Linked DNA regions of Homo sapiens: regions 2 and 3 are each linked to region 1. The links come from fine-mapping of genetic effects on gene expression. A gene starts in region 1. Each other region holds a variant in brackets. All regions are shown on one strand. Distances are from middle to middle. Region 1 holds the start of DYNLL2 (dynein light chain LC8-type 2). Region 2 holds the start of LOC105371840 (a long non-coding RNA gene). Region 3 has its middle 22 kb from the start of SRSF1.

What was found.
Region 2: its variant is fine-mapped to the expression of DYNLL2 in whole blood (TOPMed, PIP 0.98).
Region 3: its variant is fine-mapped to the expression of DYNLL2 in nasal epithelium (TOPMed, PIP 0.96).

Annotation. Positions count from the first base shown.
Region 1 is chr17:58,081,413-58,085,644 of GRCh38, forward strand. DYNLL2 (dynein light chain LC8-type 2) reads left to right here and starts at 2,007. Exons shown (of 3, transcript NM_080677.3): 1 at 2,007-2,271. DYNLL2-DT (DYNLL2 divergent transcript) reads right to left here and starts at 1,792. Exons shown (of 3, transcript NR_110809.1): 1 at 1,304-1,792; 2 at 1-1,204. RefSeq lists an enhancer at 1,736-2,030 and silencers at 1,747-2,096, 2,107-2,166, 2,207-2,626, 2,667-2,796.
Region 2 is chr17:58,059,008-58,063,239 of GRCh38, forward strand. It overlaps LOC105371840 (a long non-coding RNA gene), which reads right to left and starts at 937. Exons shown (of 4, transcript XR_001752951.2): 1 at 641-937; 2 at 453-551. The variant G/A (reference allele first, on the strand shown) is at 1,816.
Region 3 is chr17:58,026,716-58,030,947 of GRCh38, forward strand. No RefSeq gene overlaps it. Among named protein-coding and RNA genes, the nearest start is that of SRSF1, 22 kb to the left of the region's middle. The variant C/A (reference allele first, on the strand shown) is at 2,489.

The sequences.
Region 1 (4,232 bases):
GTGAAAACCCGTGGCTCTGACTTCTGTTAGTTGAAGTTCTTCGTGCCCTTCTGTCCACCACACCACAGCCTGGAAATGAGCAAGCTCTTATCCCTATTATACTTCAGGGAAGGGGAGCAGGGAGAGGGAGGATTTATGCCCTGGCAGCATGGCCTTTGAAGGGCCACTGCTAGCTCATAGTAACCCTTGGGAACACTTGAAAGAAGTCATCTTCTGGTTGGACACTGGCTTGTACCGTGACACACAGGCTAGCAAGCAGTGTGCCGGCTGTATTTTAGCACCCGCTTGCTCCATCGGTTGGATACTCTTGCGCAGTGAATGACCTGTGCAACCATACGTGGCAGATCTGACCTTCAGGCCCTGGAAGGGCCTGGAAACTAAGGACTGTTGGAGAAAGGGGGTACTAGCTTCGCTTTCTCCAGGCAGTCCAGGCGATTAGCCCCGCACAAGCCCTAAGTGTATAAATCATCCTTCCTCGTCTCCCTCCCTTCCTCCCATAGAGGCCACGCCTCCCATTCATGAACACAAAGACTGACATCAGAAAACCCTTAGTGTGAGGGGATACCCCAGGCCTTAACTGGTCTCTGAAATCCCCCAACTGAGGTTGTTAGAGGACAGAACTGTGGAAAGCAGTAACCAGAGGGAATGATTTTTCCAGGTTTCCCCTGACACATAACGAACACTAACTTTTGATGCTTCAAACCAGAGCAGGCCAGGGCCAGGGCAAGTCTGACTTCCTGACCATGGTTTGGAGAGGCGAAGGGGAAAAGATGGGAGTGGGAGCTATCCCCGGCAGCTTCTTAATCCCTACTGTATGGCCAAAATGCTTGGTTCCCAATAAAGGCTCGTCAGCCCTTGAGGTAGACACTTCTGTATAAAACAGACCAGAAAGAAAACCGCAGGCCTGAGGATCTTTCCTGGGAGTGGGATGGAGTGAGGGCAGGCAGGCTCCCAACGCGCACGTTCACACCCACTCTCCCAGAAGTAGTCTCTTGAGCCTCCAGAGGGGCTGCTTCCTGGGTGCACCTCTTTTCAGCTAGAAGCAAGTCAAGCCTGACCTGCGGGATCTGGCAGGGCTCTCTGTACTTGGATTCTCTCCTTTATAAAGTGAGGGGTGTGGATGGGTGGTTTTTGAAGGCTCCTCACAGCTCTGACAGGCACCACCTCTGGGGGCTTCTATTCACTCTCCTCCAACCTTGTCTACCTGGACAGGCAGGGACAGACGACAAGAAATCGCTCACTCTCACCCCCATCCCAGGACCCCAAGGCCATAAATGTGCAAGGACAGCAGAGGCCTGCGTACCAAAGACACATCCCCATCAATTTTGCTTCGGCTCTGTCTCCATTGCTCCTGTAGACAAATACCGGCTGGGGGCCCAGCTGGGAGTTTAGGTCCTTCAGCCTCAAAGAACAAAGGAGGAAGAAGGGACCTTCCCGGAAGGTGAGGGGAGGGAGTCCTGGGGCTCCTATGCCTCTCCCTCTCCATAGGGCTGGCTGTCCCTCTCTTTCTCACAGATACGGGAGGAGGGAGTGTCCTGTCTTTTCCTCTGAGGCTGGTGACTTCATCTCCTCCCCTCTCTAAGGTTGGGGTCTCTACCTCAGCCCCATCTGTTCCCTGGGTCTGAAATCTCCATCCCCCTCTCCCTTTTTTCTCCTTGGGACTGGGGGTCTCCACACCCTTCCCTCTCCTCCTCTCTCAGGACCATGTCTCTTTATTCCTTTTCAGGCCTGGCCTCTCCAGCCCCGGGGGGAGGGGTCCGCATTCCTCTCCTTTCTTAAGGCCACGGCTCCCTCCCCCACCCGCTCCAGCTCCTCCTCCCCACCCCCTCCCTCCGCCCCGAGGCATTGTGGGAGGAAACAAGATGTGGGGCGAGAGCGGCGCGGGGAGAAGCCCGCAGTGCGGGGCCGGGCGGGCTCAGCCAATGGGGAGCGCGGACGGCGGCGCGCGCGGCGGGGGGGCGGGGGCGGGGCACTATTTCAGCGGGGGCCGCGCGTCGGCCGCGCTCAGCGGCAGAGCGGAGCGGAGCTGTGAGGCGCCAGTGCGGAGCGGGCGGGCGGGCGGGCGGCGTGAGGCGGAGCGCGGGCGGCCGGCGAAACTCCAAGGGCGGACCGCGGCAGGGAGCGATCGGCCTCGGGCTGCGGGAGCCGGAGACCGCGGCGGCGGCGGCTGCTGCAGCTGCAGGAGGAGCCCAGGGAACACCGCCCCTGCCTGTGCTCTGCCTCGGGCCATCGCTCCTCCCCAGGGCCCAGTGCGGACTCGCCTCCGTGAAGGTGAGCGGTGGGTGGGGGCGTCCCCCGGGTGGCGGGCCTGTGTCCGTCGCGTGCGACTCTACACGACCCGGCCCTCGCCGCGGTGGCCCTGCGGCCTCCTTAGCCGGCCCCAAGGCCTGGAACAGGGCTGGCCCCGCAGCCCTTGGCGTTGACGGTCCGGGCAGCGCAGCGCGCCCCCGCCGCCCCTCCCTCTCGGCGCAGCCCGGGCTGCGCCACCCTTTGCCCCGGCCACCCTCGTGGCGCTGCTGGAGGCCCGGGCTGCGGAGCTGCCGCTGCCCCCGCCCCCGGGAGTCTCTCTGCGCTGCGTGGAGGCCCCTGATGTCAGGGGCCGGGGAAGAGGGGGTGGAGAGGGCTCGGGCGTGACGCGGCTCCTCCTGCCGCCACCGCCACCCTCTGGGGCGTCCTTCCTGCAGCGAGGACGCCCAGTCACTCCGGCGCTGTTCCAGGCCGGGTGGGGGAGGGCGGCCGACCGGCCGGGGCCTGCGGACCTGGCCGGCGGCGCGGGCGGGAGGTCGGGGGGAAGGAGGATGCTTCCTCGTTCCCCAGGTGCTGCCCTTCGGGACCGCAGCGCTCTGGAGGATGGGATAGTGGAGGGATACGGCCCACTTGGAGAGCCCGAAGAGGGAAGTAGAAGTGTGTGTGTATTGGCGGGTGGGGATGGTGGTCCGTGTCATTCGGAGATTTAGCCTTTTTTTTTGGTTGCAAAACCAGGAATAGAGGATGGGAGCTGTCCTGGGGTGCCCTTTGTGCTTTTCACAGGAGCCTTGGCTCGTGACTGAGGCTGCTGGCCTGGGGCCCTCTGGCCATCTTCCTCCTATCTGGAGGCCCAGGTCCCTTGCTTTTTCCCAAGGAGGGAGGGGCTAGGCTGGACACCTTCCTGTGCTTTGCTTACCGGCACCTTGGACAGGGGTGGTAGGGGTTGGGCTTCACCTCTCTCAGATGCCTGGGGGGCCATTGTAGTCGTAAGACCAATATTATGTAACCGCAGGCTCTTTCCTGGAGAGTAAGGTGGCTTTTAATTACTGTAACAAAGTTGCTCCTTTGGACTTTGGGAATGAGGCAGTGGAGCAGGTGAGCTTGCAGGCAAAATGGTGCCAATTTCATACTTTCACTTTGCTGTCTAACCAGGCCCCACCCCCACCCCTGGGTTTGTAAACAGTGCCCCCTTCTGAGTGGTAACCTGGAATAGGCCACCAGGTGACACTAGTTTTTCTTCACTTATACAGAGCCTTATAATGTAAGAACCTTTCTCCCTGTGCTGCTGTTGTACCTTTGCTCAGACCCATTTGAGTTTACCCCATTTATCTCATTTCAACCATTAGTATTTAAAATGAAGATGTTGATTTGCCCAAGGTCACGTAACTAGTCATTCCTTGAACAGGGTTCTCCGAATCTTTCCTCAGCACCACATGGTGCTCACAGACTCCAGTTGAGGCTCTGACTTTTCCTCTCCAGAATGTGGGGGCAGAGGGTGCTGGTCTACTACCTCTTTGCTCTGCCAGTTTCTGCCGAAGTGGAACCAGCCCTGCTTAGTTTGGCAGTGCTATCTAGATGAAGGGGCCTTGGATGCGGTCAAGGGCTGCCTGGCTGGCAGCTGGCATGTGTGCATTCTCTGCATGTGGTGCAGGCTGAAATGGTGGTGGTGAGTTCTGTTTTCCCTTTCAGCCATCTAGCCCACAGGCTATTGTGAACTCCGAGATCAAGGTGGCCTGGAATGATACCAAGGATATGTCCTTGAGCAGGCAGCCTCCTGTGTAGCCTTCCATCAGATAGAGCTGGAATGACAGCATCTCTTGTCCATTGGGCTGGGCCACAGAGGGGTGCTTTTAGGGGTGGGATGATGGGGGAGATAGTTACTGCTCCATGTGTTGGGACTGTGGTCAAGGACAAAGGGCTCATCCCCTCTGTTCCTGCATAGTACCTCACATGTTGCCACCTGTCAGGCACGTCCTGAGATTCCG
Region 2 (4,232 bases), 22 kb before region 1:
AGACAAATGGATGCAGGATATATTTTGGGGAAGGGAGACATCTTGTTATGATGTGTGGTAGCTGTGTATTTGCCACATGGCTCTCCACCACAGAACTTCCCACATGAATATTACCTGCTTGGTGTATACTATACACATATAATGTCAACAAAACTCTCAGAATGAAGAGCAAACACATCTAATAAACATGTGGATTTTTAGAGCATGCAAGCTTTTTTAGGGAAAAAAATATGGAAGCATTTTCAGTGTCAAGTCTCACCACGAGGCAGGCTCTTCAAGCTGGAAGAAAGGCATCCGGAAATACGAGTTTGTCATGGAAACGCTGATGGGGCTTCAGCTGAGTGATGCTCACAGGTGCAACCCAGAATGGCACAGCCTCTTGTGGCTTATTTACATCCCAGCCTGCTGAACGAGCTCACTTTTCTTGTTGCCTGGCCCTGGGGGCTTCTTACCAGGAAGAACTGTGGCTGTGGCTGTGTTTCTTGGTGGAGATTTTCAGCAGGAAATTACAGGGGGTCTTAGGATCAGTTTCACATCTGGGAGAAAGGCTCCTGGAGAGAGTGGAGAGATGAATGAAGTAAAGAAGGAAGAAAAGGAGGGAAGGAAGGAAAACATACTGATTCTAAGTGCCAGGACCTACCCAAGGAGAACACAGGCATCATCTTCATGTCTTCATCACCATCGGCTGTAACCCAGTGAGGTACCTAAGGTTATCCCTGTGTTACAGAGAAGGAAACAGGCTGGCGGCACCCAGAGGGGAGCTGACAACCACATCCTTGGGTAGACTAGATGGCCAGCGGTGCAAGGATTGGGAAGCTTCCCCTGAAACCACCACTTTGGCTGACACCAAAAACCCTAGAGCAGGGAACAAAGGCCTTCTCTTGACAAGCAGGGAGAAACCTAGAGAGGCCATTCCTCCTGGGAGAGCTGCATGCTGACTCCCCTGGGTCCTGTCAGGGTGGATGACTGACCACGACCCTGTGCTGCGGGCAGGCTATGGTCCAGGAGGGACACTGGGTCCTTGAAGATACAGGTTCTCTGTTCTTCCCAGCTGGGCTCCAGGAGTCACATCAGGAGCCAGAGAAGGGCATCAGTTGCTTTATGGAGCCAATAGGTGGGGCCTAAGAGGCTGGGGGAGGGAGTTGGGAATAGGAAAAGGTTGTCTGCCTGCGGGACGTTTCCATTTGGCAGAGAAAGTGTGGTCCCTTAGGGGCTCTCAATCCAATCCGACAGGAGAGACAAGAGCTCTGCACACATGGAGTCCAAGAAAGATGGAGGAAAGAAGACACAGGCCAGAGATTCTAGGAGCTCACAGACTGGACAGGGAAAGACCTGTTTTTCCCGATCCTGGCCACAGACCCAGAGGTCCCAACCATCTTGGGAACTGCCCTGGACTCTGGCAAGAGTTAGGGTGAGACCCAGACCCCCCAAGTTCTCTCCTACACATCTACAAGGCCCCCAGAGTGTTCTTCTACAATGCTTTCTATCAGAGCCACCTGCTCCTGGGGGCTTGCAGCTTTGGCCAGGACCAGTGAGTGGCTCTGCTGGGAGGCTGCTCTAATTAGGCCCAGGGTCACTCCCCAGCCCCATCTGTCCTCAGCAACATGAGTCCCACCTTTTCCTCCTCACCAGGAGCCTTGGGAGCTTGGGAGACATTCCAAGGCTGGCTCTGACATGAATTTGCTGCACAGTGCGCCAGGCGATCAGAGCTGACTCCTCTCCCTTTTCCCTTGGAGGTGTTGATAGTAACAGCAGCGATGAGCTGCCAAGTTGGCAGGAGAACAGAGCGACTGTGCACTGCGGATGGAGGGGGGC[G/A]GGAAGCAGCAAGCCGGCAGAGGGCTGGGCCAGAACGACAGTTTGTTTATCCTGAAATTGAAAGGGTCCCTCCAGTCTCAGCCACCAGCATCTTGCAGGAGGGAGGGTGACTTCCTAGAAGGTGGAGGCTCTGGTGGGAGGCCCAGGGTTGGTGATGTGGGTGTTGCTAGAGTCGGGTGGGTGGAAGGGATCTTTTGGTTGGGCCTGAAGCCATCAGCCAGCCTGGCCCCAGAGGCAGGACAGAGACCCACCTTTGTTCCTGCTGTTGAGGTGGCTGTGGAGTTTCTAAACTGGAATGGACCTGGGGTGGGGAGCTAGAGTTCTGAAGCTGCTTCCTCCTAAATATAGAGACCTCAAGGGGCATTTAGGAGGGTACTCATGCTCTGTCAATCAAACGAACCTGGGACCTTGGGCAAGTATTTGAATCCTTTGAGCCTCGGAGATTAAGAACATTTACTTTAAAGCTTTGTGTGAGGATTCAATAAAGTAGTGACGGCAAAAATTTGTTTCCTGTTTACTCCAGGGCAGACATGGTGCTAAAAGCTTTCTGTTTGTGAAGCATTTAATCCTCAAACTTTATCAGGTGGGTACTATTTGTATTCCTATTTTATGAATGAAGTAACTGAGGCACAGAGGGGGTAAGCAGCTTACTCAGTGTCACAGAGCTAATGAGTAGCCACAATGGGGATTTGAACCTAGTGGTGTGTTGCTTAGGCCTATGTTCTCAGCCCCTGTAGAAACTGTCTTCACAGTGCAACTGAGTTCTGAGCAGGGTGCCTGGCACAGAGCAAACATTTAATGAATGTTAGCTACTATCATGACTCCCCTAGAGCAGTTCCAGACAGGGGACCTAGGCTCCTGATATCTATACCAGGGACTCCCTGGGGTCCTAGGTTGTCCTCTTTCCATCTTTTGTCTATACTATCTTGCTCATCCTAGGAGCTGGAGGAACTTCTCTTTTGGAGAGATTGCTGCTGGTCTTCCCTGCTTCTCTCATCCCCTCCTCCCGAAGGCAGAGCAGAGGAATTCTCGGCTTCTTCCAGTTACCCTCAGCCTGCAAAGAAAACATAGTCTGCTGCGTCTGCTGCCAGTTCCTCTCTGGCGACAGCCACAACCCATTTGCTCAGCATCAGCCCCAGCCTGTGCTGTGGGTAGAGCCCGGAGCCTGGGGCAGGACCCCAGTGCCCTGTGTGAGAGCCTGGGTCAGTTACTGTAAGGCTGGGCCTTGGGGGCCACTCAGAGGGAGAGGCATGGCCCACATAATTTCTTGAAGACTCTGGCTGTAAGAGTGGTGACTGAAGGCTGGTGTGCTGTATGCATAGACTCTTTCTTTTTTTTTTTTTTTTAGGCGGAGTCCCTCTCTCTGTCACCAGGCTGGAGTGCAGTGGCACGATCTTGACTCACTCCAACCTCCACCTCCCAGGTTCACGCCATTCTCCTGCCTCAGCCTCCCAAGTAGCTGGGACTATAGGCGTCCGCCACCGCACCCAGCTAATTTTTGTATTTTTAGTAGAGATGGGGTTTTACCACGTTGGCCAGGAAGGTCTTGATCTCCTAATCTCGTGATCTGCCCGCCTCAGCCTCCCAAAGTGCTGGGATTACAGGCGTGAGCCACTGTGCCCGGCCGCATAGACTCTTTTTAGGGTAGGAAATCCATTGTATAAACATGTTCTCAGTTTTGGAAGGTTCATTAATACAGCCATGCAAATTGGTAACCAGCTTTACAAGCTCACTAAACTGTGCTACTGGCCACCCTAAGGTGCCAGACAAAGAATCCTGTGCCACTTTCTGCGTGGCCAGAGCTACCTCCTGTCAGCTGCGAGATAGCCAAACCACAGCCAGGAGCCCAGATTACTGACTGCTCCCTAGGCCCGAATTCTTCCCTGGGACGATGAAACATCAGGCATTTGTGTGGGGGAAAGGAACTGCAGTGTGGACATCTCAGAACAACACTGTTTTGTTTATGTAAGCTGTGAGGCATTGTGGGTGTGCTGGCTACAGAGTCACCCCCCTGTTTCCATCACATACGAGAACTGATGACAGGAGATCAGGTAGCGTTGGGAAGCTGGGGCTAAAACTCTGCTATGGACTCAGAAGAAAATGGAATATTCTAAATATTATAGAATAGACACAGCAAGGATACAGTATCTTCTAGTTAGAAACTTTTAATTAAAAGAATGTTCACTCCATAGGGATCAGCTAGAACATGATGGTCAATAATTATAAACAGCTGAGCATGGTGGTGTGCACCTGTAATCTCAACTACTAGGGAGGCTGAGGCAGGAGGATCACATGAGGCCAGGAGGTCAAAGCTGCAGTATGCCACGATTGTGCCTGTGAATAGCCACTGTATGCCGGCCTGGGCAACATAACAAGACCCCATCTCTAAATTTTTTTTTTAATTATGAACAAAAAGG
Region 3 (4,232 bases), 55 kb before region 1:
TTTTATTTTATTTTATATTTTTTGAGACGGCGTCTGACTCTGGTGCCCAGGCTGGAGTACAGTGGCGCCATCTCAGCTCACTGCAACCTCTGCCTCCCAGGTTCAAGTGATTCTCCTGCCTCAGCCTCCTGAGTAGCTGGGATTACAGGCACGTGCCACCACACCCAGCTAATTTTTGAATTTTTAGTAGAGATGGATTTTCGCCAGGCTAGTCTCAAACTCCTGATCTCAGGTGATCCGCCTGCCTCTGCCTCTCAAAGTGCTGGGATTACAGGTGTGAGCCACCACGCCTGGCCAAGGACTGCTAGTTTAGATTGGAGGGGTGACCATGGAAAACTGCAGGTGTGGTATCTCTGGGCAGGAGGTGGGGAGAGAAGGAACTGGTAGATCATCTGACAGCATTGACCAACTGACCGTGTAAAACTTGCATGAAAACACTTCAATGTTGGGTAGTGTTGCAAGATTTAACTATAAGTTTAAGGTAATCTAAGTGCATGAAAAATGGGATCGATACATTCATACAGTGGAATATTGCTTAGCAATAAAAATGAATGAGCTATCAAACCATGAAAAGATATGGAAAAATCTTAAATGCATATTGCTAAGTGAAAGAGAGGAGTCTGAAAAAACTGCATGCTGTATTTCAATTATATGACATTTTGGAAAAGGCAAAATTACTGAAATGGTAAACAGATCAGTGGTCAACAGGGTCTCAAGGAGGAAGGTTGAATAGGTGAAGCAATCAGGGTTTTTTGGGGAGATGAAATGATTCTGCATGACACTGTAATAGTGAACATGAGACATTAGGCATTTGTTAAAACCCTAAAACTACTATACAAAAAGTAAAGTTTAATGTATGAAAATTTAAATCATTTAGGAGGTTGGGGGAACTCAGCACGAAATGCAGAATGTGACAAAGGAATCTAAATGTGTTGCGAACATACAAAGCAATCTTTCCAGAGAGGATGAGGGAATAAGGGTCTGACCTCTGTAACTTTGGAAATGAGTGGAGTCTGTAATTATAAGGCAAAAGGCATTCTATATAAACACCGTAAATATACTAGTTAATTAAAAAAAAACTAGTTGTTTCTCACAGGGATACAGGTTAAGAATTCCAAAATCATTATACATGTATATTGGAATTGAACAATTAAGAAAATGGATGGCCAATGGTGAAAGTGGGGTTCTCTTTGTTAGAAGGAAAGCTTACAGACAAGCAAGAGGCAGAGGCTAGAATAATCTGTGTGGTAATTAGAATTAGAGAAATCAGCATGAACTCGTGTTTACCTTAATATGGTTTGGATGTATGTCTCCACCAAAGCTCATGTTGAAATGAGATCCCCAATGTTAGAGGTGGAGCCTGATGAGAAATGTTTGGGTCTTGGGTGTGGATCCTTCATGAATGGATTGGTGCTGTCCTTGTGATAATGGGTGAGTTCTTGCTCAGTTAGTTCATGTGAGATCTGGTTGTTTAAAAGAGCCTGGGGCCAGGCGTGGTGGCTCACGCCTATAATCCCAGCATTTTGGGAAGCCAAGGCAGGCGGATCACGAGGTCAGGAGTTCCAGACCAGCCTGGCCAATATGGTGAAACTCCGTTTCCAGACCAGCCTGGCCCATATGGTGAAATTCCGTCTCTACTGAAAATACAAAAATTAGCCAGGTGTGGTGGTGTGTGCCTGTAGTCCCAGCTACTTGGGAAGCTGAGGAAGAAGAATCGCTTGAACCCAGGATGTGGAGGTTGCAGTGAGCCAAGATTGTGCCACTGCACTCCAGCCTGGGTGACAGATCAAGACTCTGTCTCAAAAACAAAACTAAACAAAACCAAACCATGAGGATTTAATAAAAGGACTCCTAAAGCTCTTTGCCAGAAAGAAGCCCCACTGCCACCCAGAGAAGGCAGAGGCAGGGAGAATTGCTTGAACCCAGGAGGCAGAGGCTGCAGTGAGCCAAGATCACATGGCTGCACTCCAGCCTGGGTGACAGAGCAAGTCTCTGCCTCAAAAAAAAAAAAAAAAAAAAAAGAGTCTGGGACCTCCCACTTTCTCTCTCTCTCTTGCTCTCTCTCTTGCCATGTGACATGCTTGCTGCTGCTTCACCATCCACCATGAGTAAAAGCTCCTTGGGGCCTCACCAGAAGCCAAGCAGATGCTAGTGTCATGCTTTCTATACAGCCTGCAGAATCTTGAGCCAACTGAATCTTTTTTCTTTATAAATTACCCAGCCTTAGGTATTTCTTTTTAGTAATGCAAAAACTGACTAACACAGATGGCTACATATATATATATTTATAAATATGCATATATATATATATACACACACATGTTAGTATACACACATATCTCTCCTTGCTCTGTCAGCTGAGAGGGCCTAGAAGCAAGACACCCCAGTAGCAATGAGCACACCTAGCACCCAGATCTTGGTTTCTAATACCATTCTCCAATAAAAGAGCCAGGGTTCCTTGGAAAAATGATTGATTGTAGGACTGGGA[C/A]AGGAAATATACGTAATGAGTCTGGAGCATCTTTTAGTGCCGTAAAGTAAGAAAGTGCATACAAAACCAAAACCAAACTAAAAACCCACCATGAGGCCGGCCACGGTAGCTCATGGTGGTGGCATGTGCCTGTAATCCCAGCTACTCAGGAGGCTGAGGCAGGAGAATTGCTTGAACCCAGGAGGTGGAGGTTGCAGTGAGACGAGATCGCACCACTGCACTCCGGCCTGGGCAACAGAGCAAGACTCCGTCTCAAAAAAAGAAAGAAAGAAAGAAAGAAAGAAAGAAAAAAAAAAACCACCACAATAATGGGGATATGTATAAAGGATATAGGACCCAACTGACAGAGCACCCAATGGCCCAAGCTAAAACAATCTGAGAAATAACAAAGAAAAAAAATACACAAAGTAGTATTGGAGTATCACCAAAGTATAAATGATATAAATACATGATTAAATGTATTAGGAGCCCAGCCTGTGGTTTTCTTTTATAGTACAGTATAGAAATGAAGGGGGCAGGCTGGGTGTGGTGGCTCCTGCCTGTAATCCCAGCACTTTGGGAGGACGAGGCAGGTGGATCACCTGAGGTCAGGAGTTCAAGACCAGCCTGGCCAACATGGTGAAACCCTGTCTCTACTAAAAAATATAAAAATTAACCAGGTGTGGTGGTGGGTGCCTGTAGTCCCAGCTACTTGGGAGGCTGAGGCAGGGAGAATTGCTTGAACCAGGAGGCGGAGGTTGCAGTGAGCGGAGATCGCGCCACTGCACTCCAGCCTGGGTGACAGAGCGACACAACATCTAAAAAAAAAAGAAAAAAAAAAGACAAATGAAAAGGGGAAAGTAACTTTAGAGTGAAGAAAACTGATAAACTCCATCAAGCCATTCAATCAAGATTAACATCAACAATGATAAGTCATATTGATAACACGTAACCTTGGTATGGCATGATAAAAATGGCACTTTACTTCCGTGATCTTCCTCTTCAAAAATGTTACCCCTGTCTAATTACAAGAACATCAGACAAATCCTGATTGAGAGTCATTCTACAAAATGCCTGACCAGTAATCCTCAAAACTTTCAACATTATAAAAACAAAGAGAGTCTGGGAAACTATTATAACCAAGAGGAGTCTACAGAGACATGACAACTAAATGTAACAAAGTATCATGCGTGGGATCTTGGAACAGAAGAAGGACATTAGGGAAACACTGAGGAAATCTGAATGAAGTATTAACTTTAGTTAATAACAATGTATCATTAGTGTTTCATTAATTGTGACAGATATACCCACTAATGTAATATGAGAAACTGGGTGTGGGGTATATGGGATCTTTCTGTTTTATCTTCTCAACAACTCTGTGAACTAAAACTATTCTAAAATTTTAAGAGTTTATTTTTAACAATGAGGCAATATTGATTCTAAGAGAACCAAATGAACAAAAAATGAAGAAAAATCATAGTAAAACATTGGCTCAACCTTGAGCAATATTTACATCATCATCATAATTAAAATGTAAAACATGGGCCGGGTGCAGTGGCTCATGCCTGTAATCCCAGCACTTTGGAAAGCTGAGGCGGGTGGATCATGAGGTCAAGAGATCAAGACCATCCTGGCCAACATAGTGAAACCCCGTCTTTACTGAAAATACAAAAATTAGCCAGGCGGGGTGGCACGTGCCTGTAGTCCCTACAGCTACTCAGGAGGCTGAGGCAGGAGAATTGCTTGAACTTGGGAGGCAGAGGTT